2 separate regions of the Homo sapiens genome follow, and region 1 is linked to region 2. The links come from fine-mapping of genetic effects on gene expression. A gene starts in region 2. The other region holds a variant in brackets. All regions are shown on one strand. Distances are between the middles of the regions.

Region 1 (3,033 bases), 690 kb after region 2:
CGCACGGTGCGCGCACCCACTGACCTGTGCCCACTGTCTGGCACTCCCTAGTGAGATGAACCCGGTACCTCAGATGGAAATGCAGAAATCACCGTCTTCTATGTCACTCACGCTGGGAGCTGTAGACTGGAGCTGTTCCTATTCGGCCATCTTGGCTCCTCTTTTTTTTTTTTTTTTTTTTTTACATAGATGAAGGGGACCTCTCATAATAGATGGCACCTTGAGTTGGGTTGTAGCTGGCTTTTGCAGTTGCTTAGATGAGTATTGCATTGTTCCAGTCGTCCTATTCTGAAATGTGTCTGAGAATCCTGTTTTAGAGCCAAGCTCCATTCTAGCAAACAGTAGTGCAAGCCCCACTCCTTGGCCTGATTGATACAGTAATGGCACTGTCCACCCCCTAGCCACCCCGGGAGTACTCTCTGTGGGGAGTTTGCTGCTGCCGTCTAAACTGAAATGGACTTGATTTTCTCTTCTGAGTAGATGCTCAGCTGTAATCCATTGGGAGAAAATTCTTGATTTCTTGGGATATTTAGGAAGGCTAGCGACAGGTAGGAGCTTCTTTATTTATTATGCTTTTCTCTAGAAGCTTCATTGAATACATTATCTTCTGCCCCACACCCCAGGGCTTTGACCAAAATATCCTTGAGATACTGTGGCCCATATTCGGTCACAGAGGTGCACTGTTCTTTTGAAAGAATGGCATGCCGCAACTTACCTACTCACCTACAGAAGGTGAGTGCTGCAAGGCAGTCCCAGTAGGCACTTGGAGTGGAGCTTTGATGAATCCGAAGGATCATGGGCTTTGGAATCACAAGACCCAGGTCCAAGGCCTGATCTCTGCTTCTTACCAGCAGGCTGTGAAGGCTGTGAAACACTTCAAAGGCCCGTAATTTCTCAGTTTGTAAAAACAGCGATTTTCATTTCTGTCTCTTAGGGGTTGATTCAGTGAGACAGTGGCTGTGGAAAAACTTTATAGACTGTAAAGTGTTAAAGACATATCCTTTGTCTCTGTTCTTATCTAAGAATGATGTTTTAATGCTTTTGAGCAGGACACAGAGAGGTGCTACAGGGACAGGGTTGCTTCTACCACCAGCCATCTGGCTATGTTGATAACTGGGATCTGTGTACTTCTTGACCTGTGATGCTCAAGTCTTAATATGCATCAGAGTCACTTGGGGGCTAGGCCCCATGTCTCTAAAATCCCCTTGGTTGATCTGGGATCCATGTGTCATTAGCTCCCCAGCTATTCTGATGGAGGTTACCCATAAGCTCCACTTTGAGAAAAACTAGAGCGTACAGCTTGGACTAGATGACCATGGAGATTGGGATGGAAGGAAAAGCATGGTAGGGTCATGTCTGTGTGCACCCCTGAATGAGAGGCAAGGACTCCTTCGTGTTGAGTTAACCAACAGCTCTTCTGGGCTCTGCCACTATCACGTTCCATTTGTTAACAGTTGCTTCCTGTGTGTGTTTGTGTTTTTTTCTGGTTGGGATGTTTGGCCTCTTTTAGTTGTGAGAAACAATGCTGGGGCCATGAGTGTAAAAGCATCTTCTGTTTTATTGTTGGTAGCAATAGTTGCCTGGCTTGACTGAAAGTCATTTTCCTTGGAGGTTGTACCTAAAGATTTAGCGGATGGATCAAGACCATTGTCCTGCTCTGGCTTTCTGATATCACCTCACCTCATGGTGTCTGTGGGCTTAGTTTACCCTTCATTTATTTTGAGCACCAATGGACAGCTGTCTTTGTTTTGTGTGTTTTGTGAGGAAGATGTCTTGGGAGCCTTCAGTGAAGATAGAGTGTGTGTGTGTGCATGCGTGTGTGCGTGCGTGTGTG[TGTGC/C]TTGCGTGTGTGTGCGTGCATGTGTGTGCGTGTGTGCGTGCGTGTGTGTGTGTGCATGGTGGGATAAGGGATAAGGTCATTTGAGAGGATCTGGAAGCCAAGGGAAACAGGTCTGCTGGGAATTCCAAAATTCTGTCTAGTAGAAGATCTTAAAGTTTATTCCTCATCGGAGCTCTTAGCAGAGCCGGCACAAGCTTAAGTGACCTTGAAGCCTTTAGAAAGAGCAGCTTCTCCGCAATGCCAGTCACATGGCACAGAAGATCAAGATGTTGTTTAAATAAAATCTTGCAGCAGCATCCATTTCACAGGTCCCTGGGGCCGCGTGTAGTCAGTACTAGAAGGGCAAGACTTTAAAACAAGTATGTGGTGTAACAGTAGCATTCTTTTTATTTTATTTATTTATTTTTATTGTTTATTTTTTCGTTTTTATTTTTTTTTTGCCCCCAGTTGAAGAAGACCAGGAAAGAATCTTCTTTTAAAAAACTGAGCTCTATCTGTCCTGATTCCTGGTGCTGCTTCAGGTATCTACCTTAATTTTCTTATATTCCTATGAAGACAGTGGTTTGGATAATTGGAGGTAGCTATACACTGAAATTATTAAATTGTTTACCTTCAAAACAGGAGTAGACCAGAAATGCAGGTCCTTGTCCTCAGAACTGCAGTTCACATCATATTCAGTAATTAATTTAATAGTCACGTTTTCCTCCCAGGCTAGACAGGAAGGGCACTAACTTTGACTTAGGATCCCTTTTGTAGCTCCCACATTATGTGAGGATATCAATTTGCCTTCTGTTTATTTTTCTTTATTATAAAAATAAATTTATTATAAAAACTTTATTATAAAATTTTGCTGTCATTTAAAAATATACGGAAAAGGTGAAACAATGAAGAAATCTACAATCACCTAAAAGCAACTACAATGAATATTTTAGCTGATCTCATGCCAGTGATTCATCTGTATATATATATATATATATATATATATATATATATATATATATAGGGCTCCATGAATTAACCTAAATGACAGAGCAGGTTAGGTGCTTAATATTCTGAGGCCATCTAAACTCAACATCTTGCCTTTCTCTTGAGGGCAGCTCCTCCACTAGTCCCTTTTCTTCATGGTTTCAGAGACTTTCCCAGCCTGCCAGTCTTCATTTGGAGGCTTTCTATGGAGCTTTGTGAAATCACAGTA
Region 2 (2,722 bases):
GACCATCCTGGCTAACACGGTGAAACCTCGTCTCTACTAAAAATACAAAAATTAGCCGGGCGTGGTGGCAGGCGCCTGTAGTCCCAGCTACTCAAGAGGCTGAGGCAGGAGAATCGCTTGAACCCGGGAGGCAGAGGTTGCAGTGAGCCAATATCGTACCACTGCATTCCAGCCTGGGCGAGAATGAGACTCCGTCTCAAAAAACAAAACAAAACAAAACAAACCCCAAAAACAAAAAAGAAAATTAAGCTGGGTGTGGTGGCTCACACCTGTAATTCCAGCAATTCGAGAGGTCGAGGCAGGAGGTTCAGGTTCACTTGAGGCCAGGAGTTTGCGACTAGCCTGGGCGACATAGGTAGACTGTCTCTGGAGGAAAGTAAAAAGCATTAGCCAGGCATGGTGGCGTGAGCCTATAGTCCCATCTAGTCAGGAGGCCCAGGCGGGAGGATTGCACATGCCTGTAGTCCCAGCTACTATGGAGGCTGAGGCAGGAGAATCGCTTGAACCCGGAGGTCAGAGGTTGCAGTGAGCCGAGATCTCGCCACTGCACTCCAGCCTGGGCGACAGAGCAAGACTCCGTCCTAAAACAAAAAAAAGTTACAGTGCAAAGTACTAGTTGTGATGTCATGATGCCTGCAACTTTGAAATAGTTTAACGACAATACGTGTATACATAGCTACAGGTGGGGAGAGAGTGACGAGCAGAAATGGCAAAGTGCTAGGTTGTCTGATTTAGGCGGAGGTATATAGGTGTTCACTGCACTGTTTTCAACTGTTCCGTATGCGTTAAAATGATCGTAATACAATGTTAGAGGGAGAAAAAAAACCCCGCCTGTCTTCTGCGCAGTCGCCATGGGCACGAGCCGCACGCGGAGCCTTACGACCACCTTCAGGTCCCACACACTCCACTCCAGCCGTCCCTCCAGACTCCATCTGCGCATGCTCTTGCCCCACCGCGCCCGCCCCGCCCCTCGGGCGTACGTGTGCGCGCAGGGCGCAGGCGCGCGGGTCCCGGCAGCCCGTGAGACGCCCGCTGCTGGACGCGGGTAGCCGTCTGAGGTGCCGGAGCTGCGGGAGGATGGAGCCGCTGAAGGTGGAAAAGTTCGCAACCGCCAAGAGGGGAAACGGGCTGCGCGCCGTGACCCCGCTGCGCCCCGGAGAGCTACTCTTCCGCTCGGATCCCTTGGCGTACACGGTGTGCAAGGGGAGTCGTGGCGTCGTCTGCGACCGCTGCCTTCTCGGGTGCGTAAGGAGCGCCCTCGCCTACCTGAGTCGCGAGCTGTGTGGGGTGCTGGGGAGGGGGGGGCGTCGGGCGGCCGGCAGCCGCGGGACTCCTGCTGGATGGGGCTGCACAGGCAGCTTGGCGGTGCTGCCCCTGACGCGCGTGTGCCCGGGGGCGGGTCGCTGCTGACAGGCCCCGCCCGGACACCCCCCTAGGTTGCCGCAGCGGGGCTGGGAGGGGGCCCAGGCTCAGCCACTGCCCCCCAACCTGGGCTGCGGTGGAAATGGGAAAGCCATTGGGCAGACTTGAGGGGGAAGCGTTGTGCCGGGGATAATTTTGCTGGGAGACGAAAAGTCTGTGTGCTGGACAGTCTTCCTTGGTGCGGCTGTGGAAATCACACGTGGCGGGCGTGGGGCTGGGTGGGAGCTGGGATGAGTATAAATCAGGCTCCCCTGCAGAGGCCCCGCCGGTAAAGCATCAGGCTTGCAGCAGGTGGAAGAATCTTGATGTCTACGGTGCACCTCTGTGGTCTGGGTTGTGTGTGGCCTGGGGATACGAAGAGGAACGGGACCTCCTCAAAGAGCTGATCAAGTGAGAGAGAGAATTACAGTGTACCAGAAGGGCTGAAATAGAGGGGCAATTAATGTGCTGTGGGAGCATCAGACACGGGTCCCCCGTGTGCTGTGCCATTTAATGGCTGTGCAGGCATGTCTAACTCTTAACCACCATTCTAGATGCAGGGATTCACGTGAAGGTGTTTTGGAAGCCTGGACGCGCTGTGCCGGTGTAAAGTGCTATGTGAAAGCAATTTATGGAAATGTGTAACATACATGAATAATAGGAACTGCATTCAGTCAACAAATATTATTGAGCTTCTGTGTGCGAGGAAGAAGAGTTCTATTTTGAGATGAGTGCGATGATTTTGTGCATGGCCGCTTTTCAGACCTGCCAGTCTGAGATTTAGGTGGGTGGAGGTGGGACGGTAAGTGCAAAACTCGTATCTGTAATTTGACCATTGTTCTTACTTTGTTCTCATTTGATTCATAATTCAGGAATATGACTTTGCATTTTAGAGCTACCAAATAATAATTTTGTCTGTTGCTTTCTGAAGTAATGATAACAGCGAAAACATCTGTTCGGGAGAGAGCAGCATCTTGAAGTTTTTGTAAACTGTGTGGTTGAAAACAATTCGTTCCTTTCAAGATAGTTCTTGGAACAGAAAAGTTTTGGAATGAATAAATGGTGACAAATTGGCAATTGAATCATTAGAGCTGAAGTTGAGTCTTGTGACACACGGAATTGTGCATTTCCAAAATAAGCTACACAAACCCTTTGTGGGTGGGATGCTTGTTGATTTACCATACTATTTCATTAGTCTCATTCATTTTTCCTGTTTGCAGTAACTGGGGATTTAAGCAAAAAAGGAATTTAATGAAAGAGTTTTGGGGGAGTTCTCAGTGTTGCTTTAAAGTCTGCCAAGACTTGACTGGGCATCGGCTGA

What was found. PIP is the estimated chance that this variant, and not a neighbour inherited with it, causes the effect. A credible set is the group of variants that fine-mapping cannot tell apart.
Region 1: its variant is the best candidate, but not a certain one, in a credible set for the expression of SMYD3 in blood mononuclear cells (TOPMed, PIP 0.60).

What each region holds. Positions count from the first base shown.
Region 1 is chr1:245,813,668-245,816,700 of GRCh38, reverse strand. All of the region lies in intron 10 of SMYD3 (SET and MYND domain containing 3), which reads left to right. Among named protein-coding and RNA genes, the nearest start is that of SMYD3-AS1, 290 kb to the left of the region's middle. RefSeq lists an enhancer at 1-483. The variant TGTGC/C (reference allele first, on the strand shown) is at 1,835.
Region 2 is chr1:246,505,573-246,508,294 of GRCh38, reverse strand. It overlaps SMYD3 (SET and MYND domain containing 3), which reads left to right and starts at 1,016. Exons shown (of 12, transcript NM_001167740.2): 1 at 1,016-1,241. The coding sequence starts at 1,078. RefSeq lists silencers at 157-389, 879-1,058, 1,329-1,378 and enhancers at 1,064-1,564, 1,565-2,065.